Linked DNA regions of Homo sapiens. The protein of the gene in region 1 purifies or fractionates together with the protein of each later gene. This does not show direct contact. Each region holds a gene or a part of one and is shown on either strand. Other genes may lie near its edges.

Region 1 (4,294 bases):
TAAAAACAAAATATTTGGAAATAAATGTTCATATTAATAAGGCGCATACCGTATGATCTTAGTCCAGTTAGAATATTCTGTTTTATTTCAATCCTTTAAAAGACTCAACTTCTGACTCTATATAGACGATTAAAAAAAGAATGTGTTCTCCCTTTGTGCATTTGGTCAGGTAAATTAAAAAATACACCACATGCTAGCCGCACCAAACTGGAATAAGCCTTTGGAAAGAAGTTGTCCTTGAAGCTTGTATCTGACATTGTAGCAGGACGAGCCTCAGACAAAACCTCTCAGACACTGAGTTGTAGAAGGAAGGGCTTTATTCAGCTGGGAGCATCGGCCAGCTACTGTCTCAAAATCTGAGCTCCCGGAGTGCACAATTTCTGTCCTTTTTAAGGGCTCACAACACTAAAGATTTCACATGAAAGGGTCGTGATTGATTTGAGCAAGCAAGGGATACGTGACAAGGACTACATTCACTGCTGGTCAGGGAGAAACAGAACAGGGCAGGGAGTTTCACAGAGTTCTTTTATACAATGTCTGGAATCTGTGAATAATATCAGCTTCTAAATCATAAGTTGATTTTTAGCTACTGGGTTTAGGCCAATCAGGCCCAGGCCTGGTTTCAGGCCTGGCGCTGGGCTGCATGTCTTTGGTTGTACTTCCTGGTTGTTTTTACTGAATAGAAAACAATATAAAACAAGGAGAGGGTCTTTGTCTCCTCTCAATATCAGCACTGGATTGTAGAATGTGTTGCTGATTTTGACCTTGTATTCAAGTTAACTGTTGCCCTTGGTATCTGTACATATCTTTGATTTCAGTCTTTACTACACGTGGCTTGGTCACTTCATGGCTAAAAACATGCTTGTGGAAGACCAGTCTGGCTCGGTGAGTCTGTGCGGCCAGCAGTCTCTGATCTGTACAGGGTATTAATGTGTCAGGGCTGAGTGTTCTGGGATTTGTCTAGAGGCTGGTAAGGGCTTCTGGACCACTTGTTTCTGTCCTGTCAGTCTGTCAGGGTTGGAAAGTCCAAGCCATAGGACCCAGTTTCCTTTCTTAGCTTACGTTATCTACCAGAGCACCGTGGGCTGTTACTTACCTTGAGTTGGAAGGGGTTCGCATTTATACCTGTAAAAGTATTCATCCTTTTAATTTATGTAAAGTTTTTTTGTATGCCATTCTGGATCTTTAAAGAGATGACAACAAATTTTGGTTTTCTACTGTTATGTGAGAACATTAGGCCCCAGCAACAGGTCACTGTTTAAGGAAAAATAAAAGTGCTGCCAGAACCTAAGAAAAACATTAATATCTAAAAGGTCATTTAGATGATTTCCATGAGAGACTTTTTGATGTTCTTTACCTGTTAGGATTATTATTGATAATCCTTTTCAGATTATGAATAAACAGTTTGCCCTCAAGTATTTATTCATGCTAATATTTACTTTGTAAAATGTGCTTCTTACAGGAATATAAATAGTTTCTGGAAAGGACACTGACAACTTCAAAGCAAAATGAAGTTCTTTCTGTTGCTTTTCACCATTGGGTTCTGCTGGGCTCAGTATTCCCCAAATACACAACAAGGACGGACATCTATTGTTCATCTGTTTGAATGGCGATGGGTTGATATTGCTCTTGAATGTGAGCGATATTTAGCTCCGAAGGGATTTGGAGGGGTTCAGGTGGGTATGATTCATAGTATCAATTGCGGAATTCACTGTGCTTGTAGGAAATAGTATTCTGATCTTATCTGTGAAGCTTGGGCAACATTTTACTTCACAGGTAAGTATTCTAAGTAAAAGAGATTTCTGAGGGAAAATCTATGTAGTATTCTTGGCAACTTTATATTTTGTTTCTGAGATAATCTTTCTTCACCAAGAGCCCTCCAATGTGCTGTTAATATTTTCAAGAGATAGCTGCCTATACCAAGATTCAAGAATCTTTTATACTATTGATTAGTTTCTAGAACATTCAATGATACACAGTAAGACAGAATTTGGTACTTATGAAGACTGTTTAATTTGTAGGTCTCTCCACCAAATGAAAATGTTGCAATTTACAACCCTTTCAGACCTTGGTGGGAAAGATACCAACCAGTTAGCTATAAATTATGCACAAGATCTGGAAATGAAGATGAATTTAGAAACATGGTGACTAGATGTAACAATGTTGGGGTAAGTGAATTCTAGTTTCCTTTAAAAATAACAGACAGGAAAATGGTTTCTCTCTCTTCTTTCTTGCTCCTTTTCAGCAGAAAATTTTCCGTATTTTATTTTTTTAATTTTACTTCATAATTTAAAACTCAAAATTAACTGTTTATTTATGTTCAACTTTTGTGAATATTTGTGTGTGTGCTATCTACTAAAGAGGTAAGTTAAAGTTTAAATCAGAATTTGCTTCTAAAGCAAAACATCAAATTTTAACCCTTATAACTGTTCGTATTTCCCGGAAACAATTTACTGGTTAGGAAGTATAATTCCAGTTACAATGTTTGCTATCATTTTTAGGTGACTTGTGTCTCCATCCGTAATTCTTGGGTTTTTCATGGTGAATAGCTAGCTTCTCTATTTAATGAGGAGCATAAATTGAGATTAATAGCTACCTTGTTTGTCTTCAAAAGCTTCATAGAGAGTACAGGCTTTCTCCTGGTGACCCACTGAAATTTCCAAAACAATAACCTTTCCACTCTCATCTGAGTTTTGTCTTCCCAAAGTGGGCTTTTTGCATTTCCTCCTATTTATGGTAGTTTCTGGTCTCTCAATTTATCATTCCTATAAATATTTGACCAAGTGTCTAGAAGGCATGTAGGTGTTTAGTTCACATTACTTTCCTTTCACAGTTGATTTTTGATCTTGTAGGAAAATAATTATAAGATATCATGAAATATTTTGGAGTTTTATTAACATACTATAAACTTGCATCAATAATGCTTTAAATTTCTACCTCTCTGTAAGTCACACTGAAGTAGAAACTTTGTTTTCTAGGTTCGTATTTATGTGGATGCTGTAATTAATCATATGTGTGGTAACGCTGTGAGTGCAGGAACAAGCAGTACCTGTGGAAGTTACTTCAACCCTGGAAGTAGGGACTTTCCAGCAGTCCCATATTCTGGATGGGATTTCAATGATGGTAAATGTAAAACTGGAAGTGGAGATATCGAGAACTACAATGATGCTACTCAGGTAATTTTTTTACGAGAGTGATCTGAATAAAAGAGTAATATATGCCTTTTCTTGTAGACATGTAGCTAATTGAATTTCATTTAAAATAGGAATTTAGATCTCTTAGGGACAGAAGTTAACAAGTTTGACTACTTTAAGAAACTCAAATCCATATTTAAGAACTTTCAAATATTGATTTAAGATTTTTAATCAATACACATTTGCCCACTTCTAAGAAGTTCCCAATTAAAAATCTCATCGACTTTATTTCCTAAATTCTCTATTTTCTATTAGAAAATATTTCAAAGATACATCTGTAGTAGAATGTGAGCATCCCCAGTGCCCAATGCAAGGAAGTCACTATAGAATATCTCTTGAGGAATCATGGAATAAATGAATAATCCAATGGATTCTCAGGAGAAAAATGAGGTTTTATGAATCAATCATAACATTTTTACCTCAACAGGTCAGAGATTGTCGTCTGACTGGTCTTCTTGATCTTGCACTGGAGAAGGATTACGTGCGTTCTAAGATTGCCGAATATATGAACCATCTCATTGACATTGGTGTTGCAGGGTTCAGACTTGATGCTTCCAAGCACATGTGGCCTGGAGACATAAAGGCAATTTTGGACAAACTGCATAATCTAAACAGTAACTGGTTCCCTGCAGGAAGTAAACCTTTCATTTACCAGGAGGTACATCAATACTTATATGCCTATAAAATATCATCTTATTCGTTAGAAAATTAATGGAAGATTTAATTAAAAATGCAATTTCTGTAGGATAAGGAATGAGACATTTACATAAAACAGTGTTCTTTAACCTCCTCTTCTTCACATACAGCATATCTAATTCTTTATCACAACATGTTTTATGGAGGTACACAGAATGTAGGATACTGATAATAGTTATGTCTTTACTTTCTTTGGATAATGAAACAAGTTAATATTTATCAAGGAATTTCAGTCGATACTAAATGTTTTATTAGTGTGAGCTCTTATTATTATCATTGATGTAGAAGACTAAAAATTAGGTAAGTATTTTCACAGGACAACAGGTATCTTTGACATTATGCTTCTTTCAATATTGTAGCCTATACTTTATCAAATAAAAGAATATAAGAATATTACCTGTTGA
Region 2 (4,223 bases), on another chromosome or scaffold:
CCTCACAGCTTTGTCTGCCTCATGGTACTGTCCACCTGGCCTCTCAGGACTGCTCTGTGGCGTGTGTGCTTAAGGGATTGAGCTCGTTGGGCTGGGGACAGAGGCCTGCCTAGGTCTGTTGAGAGGGCCCAGGTAAGACTTCCACCCAGACTGACTGGCTGGGGCACACAGAGAAGCCAGGACAGGGCTGATTGTGTGTGCAGGGGCGTGCCCTCTGGACGAGGCCCCTCCCACCGGGGCGAGGCAGAGGCCTTGCTTGGTTGGAGCGGAGTGGGGGAGTGGGAGGGTCTCCCTGGTGAGATAGTACTGGAAGGGCAGGGACAGCATTCTAGGGAAGGAACCAGAAAGAGCCCCTGCATGGAATGTGGGGATTTCACCATGAGACCCCGGCTGCCTGGCCTCTGAGAACGTGTGTGGGGGGATTCCAGGTGGAAGGTCGTGTCTGGGAGGATGGGTGGGGGGTTGAGCAGTCATTGCCCCTCTCCAGATCTGCGTCCACATCTGTAAAATGGGCCTAGAATTCCCAGCCGCTGGGGGCGAGTGAGGCCATAAATTAGTTGAGATGGACCCAGGCTCCTAAGCCCCCTAGGTCATGACCCCAAACCTTGGAACCCCCGACGGAGACGGTGGGGGTGGCCGAGGCCCAATCGAATCTATCCCGCCCAGATGTGGGAAGAACCGCAGGGCAAACCCCCGGCTTCCCTCCTGGCCGCTCCTCTCTTTGAGGCCACCTCTCTGAGCCCTGATTTGCTGGCGGGTGAACTGGGGATCATCGTGTCCACTGTGGCTGGTGGTCGTGAAACGAAGTGGAAACATGAGTGTTGAGGCCGAGATGGGCGCAGTGCGCGCTCCTAAACAGCTGTCCCCATCCGTCCGCCCCTCCCTCCCTTGCGCGGGTCAGCTGGAGCGGGGGCGCGCCAGGCACGACCCTGGCCGGGCAGAAGGCGGTGGAGCCCTTAGGGGTCGCGGCTCCTACCCCCGGCCCTCCCATGTGCAGATGGGGTAGCAGCCTGGAGGTTTTTCCCAAGGTCACGTAAGGTCAAAGAAAAGGGGAGCTGGACGCGACGAGGAAAGTCACGCACGGCGGAGGGCGGGCCACCTACGCGCGCGCCCGAGTTCGCAGAGCAGCGGCGCCCTCCCGGGCTAGGGCAGCTCGGAGCTCGGAGCCTTTCTTCGCCCGCAGCTCGGGTTCCGGGAGCCCCGCCCCCGCCCATCAACGCCCCGCCCCTTTCGCCACGGCCCCGCCCCTCCTCTCCGTTCTCCCCGCCGGCGCTCCCTCAAGTTTCTCCGAAGTTTTCCGCGGGTCCAGCGGTGCGCCCCGCCCGCCGGCCAGTGACGTAACAATGGTGCAGCGCGGCGGCCAATGGGTGGTGGCGGGGGCCGGCGGCGCGGGCCAATGGCGGCGGCGGACGGTCCCGCTGTCCTGCCTGGCCGGGGCCGCACTGCGCCGCCCGCCGCCCGCCGCCCGCCGCCCGCCGCCGGCGACGGCACCGCCGCCCTGCGATCCGGCCGCGGCGGCTCAGAGCGCGGCTGCGGCGGGCGCGGGCGGCGGTGGCTCCCTCCCGTGCGTCCGTCGTGGGACCTTTGCCCGCTCGCCCGCGGGGGACAGCGCGCGCTCCGGTCCGCGGCAGGGGCGGGGACGCCCGGCCTGTGGCCCCCGCGCCCCCCATGGTGAGTCCCCGTCCCCCGCGCCGCGCCCGCGGCCGCCGCCCCCTCCTCCTCCGGCACACGCGCACGCAGGTGCAGCCCTCGCTGCGCCGGCCACCTGCGCGCGGACGCCCCGCTCGGCCCCGCGACCCTCCGCCGCCCGACGTCTGGCCGTGCAGGCCGGGAGGGGACGGGTAGGAGGTGGCGGGTGGCCCCGGGCGCGGCGCTGCCTTCGATGGCCCAACCCCCTTATTCACGAGCCGCGGCCGTGACTCTGCCCGGTGACGTGGGGAGGCCGAACTTTACGTAACCCGCCCGGCGCCCCACGCGTGCCGGCACAGGGCATATCTGGGGCCCGGAGGCCCAGGCTTGGGGAAGGGGCTCCAGTCACGGTGTTGCCCACGGGCCACAGCCTACCCGCACCGCGCCGCTCTCTTTAACTCAGTTACTGCCAGTGATAGTGACCCAGTCAGTGTGTGTGGACGCGGCCTGCCTTCTGTCCCAGGCCCCTTGTGACCAAGGGCTTACCCTTGAAAGAAGGCAGTAGGGAGGTTGGGACGGAGCCAGAGGTCAGACGCCTAGGCTCAGGTCGGGGCTGGGGACTCAGAGGGCAGGGTCAGGGCCTAAGCTCGATTGCCTGTGGGTTGGGGGTCCCCACCAATTCTGGAATGAGCCCAAACTGAGACGCAGGGGACCTGAGTTCTAGGCCTGGCTCTGCCGTGGCTTGCTGACCTTGGAGAATTGGAGAAGCTTGTGCCCTGCTGGAAAGTGGGATGGCAGTACCCGCTTCATCTAGTAGTCGGGGAGATCAAGAGAGGTATGGGACCTGAAGAGGATGGCAGACTGTGCAGTGCGGTGCACACCGGTCTCCAGGTTGTTTTCACCCTCCTATCTCCTCCCAGGAGCTAACGTGTAAGCAAACATGTTTGGATAGAGGGCTGGTGCCACGCCCCAGGCTCACCCCGCCCGCACAGCCGTCGTCCACCCCTCCCCTTTCTTACAGATAAAGCTGAGGCTCGGCCAGGGACTGTGATATACCCACATCCCCGGAACTAGGTGATCGCGGTGCAGGAACCAGGTAGGTCTGAGTCTGGATCATGCCTCTGAACAGCCCAGGAAGAGGCTCCAGGGGCCTCCAAGTGGTCTGGGGTCGGAGATCAGGGTCAGGGTTGCGCTTGGGCTGGAGAGTGGATTTGCCTCAGCTTGAGATGTGGGCCCAAGCTTTCTCATCCCCTCCCTGGCCTTTTCTTTATTTGGGGTCGTATGAACCTGGCTTAGGTGGGAACAGAAGCTCTTCCAGTGGGTCCCTGGGTTGGAGAGGGGAGGGGAGATTTGAGGGCATGGGCAGCAAGGGCATTTCCAGCAGAGGTGCCAGAGAGCAAGTCAGTTTCAAGGAGGGAGAACAGGTACAGCTAGATCAAGGATGGAGGCGGTGGTTCTGGGCGTCGGAGAGATGGAGCTGTAGGGTGACTGGAAGGGCCTGGCCGAGGCTGGAGGTAGGTACAGGCCTGGTGGGCCAGGACCGGAGGGGCTGTGTGAGGGGCAGAGGGGAGTCCCCGGGCCTCCCCAGTTTCCCCGCGCCTCACCGTGGCCTCTTCCTTTCCCCGCAGGTGTGCCTTCGCGGGATCCATGCCTTGAGGCCCAGGAACGCCCCGCCGCCAGCATGCCGTGGGACGCGCGGCGGCCTGGGGGTGGCGCGGACGGCGGGCCCGAGGCCTCGGGCGCGGCGCGCTCGCGAGCGCAGAAGCAGTGCCGCAAGTCGTCGTTCGCCTTCTACCAGGCGGTGCGCGACCTGCTACCCGTGTGGCTGCTGGAGGATATGCGCGCCAGCGAGGCCTTCCACTGGGACGAGCGCGGGCGCGCCGCCGCCTACTCGCCCTCTGAGGCGCTGCTCTACGCGCTCGTGCACGACCACCAAGCGTACGCGCATTACCTGCTGGCCACGTTCCCGCGGCGCGCGCTCGCACCGCCCAGTGCCGGCTTCCGCTGCTGCGCGGCTCCCGGGCCGCACGTGGCGCTGGCAGTGCGCTACAACCGCGTGGGCATTCTGCGCCGCATCCTGCGCACCTTGCGCGACTTCCCGGCCGAGGAGCGGGCGCGCGTGCTGGACCGGCGTGGCTGCAGCCGCGTGGAGGGCGGTGGCACGTCGCTGCACGTGGCCTGTGAGCTGGCGCGCCCCGAGTGCCTCTTCCTGCTGCTGGGCCACGGCGCCTCGCCCGGTCTGCGGGACGGCGGCGGCCTCACGCCTCTCGAGCTGCTGCTGCGCCAGCTGGGCCGCGACGCCGGGGCCACTCCCTCCGCCGCCGGAGCCCCCGCCTCAGCTCCCGGGGAGCCGCGCCAGCGCCGCCTGCTGCTGCTGGACCTCCTGGCGCTGTACACCCCCGTGGGTGCCGCCGGCTCGGCCCGCCAGGAGCTGCTGGGCGACCGGCCGCGCTGGCAGCGGCTGCTGGGTGAGGACAAGTTCCAGTGGCTGGCGGGCCTGGCGCCGCCCTCGCTCTTCGCGCGCGCCATGCAGGTGCTGGTCACCGCCATCTCTCCAGGCCGCTTCCCCGAGGCCCTGGACGAGCTGCCGCTGC
Region 3 (2,940 bases), on another chromosome or scaffold:
TGACACCATGAATTTTAAGATTCCAAACACTGACAGTACTATATAGAAACTGTTATATAGGAGAAATTAAATTCCAAACAGAAATACAGATTATATAGCAAAAAATATAGTGTATAGGCAGAATTTTTAAAAAATTACCATAGTGCCACCTAGTGTCCATCATGAAAACTGATGGAAAAAACAAGATGAAACTGCTTGTTCCTCTGCTTTTTAGGTTAAAAGTAGGCTTTTAGAGTAGATTTTGTATAGAAAATTATTTTTGAAAGCATTCAGTATTGCTGAATATATCCAAGAATGCCTTCACAGTTTCAGCTGTAGAATTGACCTGATGGTAGCAATCACCCATGGAAAAGTCTTCATATGTCTTTTGATCATAAATTCAAGTTACTTATCAGTTAAGATACACTGTGCAAGTCACATGACTTACAAGATGAATAAGAAATGTGAAATACTCAGTTCACAATGACCTTTTCTTTCTCTGAAGCACTACAGTCTGTTATTTAATAACTGTATATAACCTTGTATCATTCAACTTTTCTCCTAAAAAAGAAGATAGCTGCAAAACTCTGCAAAGCCAGGAACAAGGGTCTTCTTTTTTTTTTTGAGACAGGGTCTTGCTGTGTTGCCCAGGTTGGAGTGCAGTGGCAGGAACACAGTTCACGGTGGCTGCAACCTCCTGGGCTTGAGTGATCTTTCTGCCTCAGTCTCCTGAGTAGCTGGGAATACAGGTGTATACCACTACACCTGGCTAACTTTTAAATTTTTTGTAGACAGGGGTCTTGCTATGTTGCCCAGGCTGGCCTGAAACTCTTGGGCTCAAGCGATCCTTCCACCTTGGCCCCCAAAGTGCTGGGATCACAGGTCTGAGCCACTATGCCCGGCCAAATTTGTACTTATATCCAAGTACAAATGGCTGGGCGCAGTGGCTCACGCCTGAAATCCCAGCACTTTGGGAGGCTGAGGTGGGTGGATCACCTGAGGTCAGGAGTTCGAGACCAGCCTGGCCAACATGGTGAAACCTTGTCTCTACTAAAAATACAAAAATTAGCCAGCCATGGTGGTAGGCGCCTGTAATCCAAGCTACTCGGGAAGCTGAGGCAGGAGAATTGCTTGAACCCAGGAGGCGGAGGTTGCAGTGGGCTGAGATCATGCCACTGCACTCTAGCCTGGATGACCTCCGGCCTGGATGACAAGAGCAAAACTCCATCTCAAAAAAAAAACAAAAACAAAAACAAACAACAACAACAAAATTTTATACCATTAACATGTACGTCCAAGTGTCTGAGGCTTACACACCTTATAATCCTCACAGTGACCAAGCTCATTAATCTTCAGCTCATATGAAGAATGACTCATCCACCTCAAACCTGATCAATTTATCAAGTGACCTACATTAATTTTTTGAAACTCATCAGTTTGTATTCTAAGAAAAAATTACTTGAAATTTAGTCAACAGGCTGCCTAAAATCAGGACAATTGAAAAAGAAGGTGTTTTGAGTTTTACCAACAAAAAGTCATTTGGCCTTCATTTTACACATAATGGTGGCAGGACACAACTCTACCACATCCTTTGAGCAACATTCATTTATTAAAATCAAAGAAAGTACTGGTTTCAAGACAAGTCAAAAAGCAATCAACAGAAGTCTGTACCTGAAAGGCATACATTATTGTTTAATGAGACAAGGCAATCAGATCACAGTAGTGATGTAATAAACATTCAGTACATGTTGAATGACTACTTACTGGAGGAATTGTTGAACAGCTTACAGCACTGCCTGAAGAAGTGATACTCAGAGTTCTTGTTCTATACTGATTCATAGCTCCCACATTTTCTTCATCTCTAAAATTAAAAAACCCACAATTTATCTAGTTAATTTGTATAATGTAATGAATCCCATTTGATTAATTTATATTATTTTTTGCATGCAGCAAAACTGAAGACATAAAATACTTCAGAAAGATCATTATATTTTAAAATTTCTGTGAAGATAAAACTACCTACTGTTAAGTTCTATACATTAACAATTTTCATTTTCCAGCATTTTGTTAGTCACTATCAAAATTTAAAAACAGTAGAATGCTTAAGCCATTGAAATTTATCACCTCCCCACAATTCATCTTCCCTTTTCTAATAATCCTCTCCTCTTCTTTCACTGAACTATATAAATCTGTCTCTCCCTATCTAAATTTTTGAGACTCTTTCCACCTTCACAAACAGAAGATATAATGGAAACAGACAGTACTCATTATAGTCAGCTCCACTAGGGTAGGAAAATCTGCAACCTAGAGACTAATGTTTTTCACATGGCTCAAAGTTTCAATATATGCAATGTATAAAAACTCGGACGATATTAACTCCTAACAGTTAATATTTTTCAGCAACATCTGCTGTTCTGCTTTTACTTTGAATGGAAGTTTTGCCCAGCATGTATCCAGAGTGGGAACAAAATTATTGTTCCCATTCTGAGTTTAAAAGACCATTTAATCCTATATAGATTTTCTTCTATCACTGTGATGGTTAATTTTATATGTTAACTTGACTGGGCCTCAGGGTGCCATATATTTGGTTAAACATTAACTTGGGTGTGTCTTTGAGGGCGTTTCTGAATCAATAAACTGAGTATAGCAGATTGCCCTCCCCAGTGTGGGTGGACCTCATCCAATCCATTGAAGGCCTGATGAGAACAAAAAGGCAAAGTAAGAGAGAACTGTCTTTGAACTGGGACATGGGTCCTCTCCTTTCTTTGGATGTGGACTGGAACTTATGCTATTGTCTCTTCTGGTTCTTAGCTCTTTGGATTTGGACTGGAACTGTACCATGGGCTCTCCTTGGTCTCTAGCTTGTTGACTACAGATCCTGGGACTTCTCAGCCTCCATAACCCCATGGGCTAATTCCTTAAAATAAATCTCCTATTTATTCTGTTTCTTTGAAGAATCCA

The links. The genes of interacting proteins can lie anywhere in the genome.
Region 2: the proteins of AMY2A (region 1) and ANKRD9 purify together in Homo sapiens (affinity purification with mass spectrometry; one large-scale study listed by BioGRID and IntAct). This does not show direct contact.
Region 3: the proteins of AMY2A (region 1) and RIOK2 purify together in Homo sapiens (affinity purification with mass spectrometry; one large-scale study listed by BioGRID and IntAct). This does not show direct contact.

The regions. Positions count from the first base shown.
Region 1 is NC_000001.11:103,615,933-103,620,226, forward strand, and holds the start of AMY2A (pancreatic alpha-amylase precursor), read left to right. Parts: upstream 1-1,494; 5' UTR 1,495-1,508; coding exon 1,509-1,676; intron 1,677-2,021; coding exon 2,022-2,168; intron 2,169-2,978; coding exon 2,979-3,176; intron 3,177-3,621; coding exon 3,622-3,852; intron 3,853-4,294.
Region 2 is NC_000014.9:102,506,977-102,511,199, reverse strand, and holds the start of ANKRD9 (ankyrin repeat domain-containing protein 9), read left to right. Parts: upstream 1-1,423; 5' UTR 1,424-1,671; intron 1,672-2,347; exon of another isoform or gene 2,348-2,353; 5' UTR 2,354-2,559; intron 2,560-2,650; 5' UTR 2,651-2,725; intron 2,726-3,257; 5' UTR 3,258-3,310; coding exon 3,311-4,223.
Region 3 is NC_000005.10:97,163,308-97,166,247, forward strand, and holds part of RIOK2 (serine/threonine-protein kinase RIO2), read right to left. Parts: intron 1,841-2,940; coding exon 1,744-1,840; intron 1-1,743. UniProt on the Homo sapiens protein: Serine/threonine-protein kinase involved in the final steps of cytoplasmic maturation of the 40S ribosomal subunit. Involved in export of the 40S pre-ribosome particles (pre-40S) from the nucleus to the cytoplasm.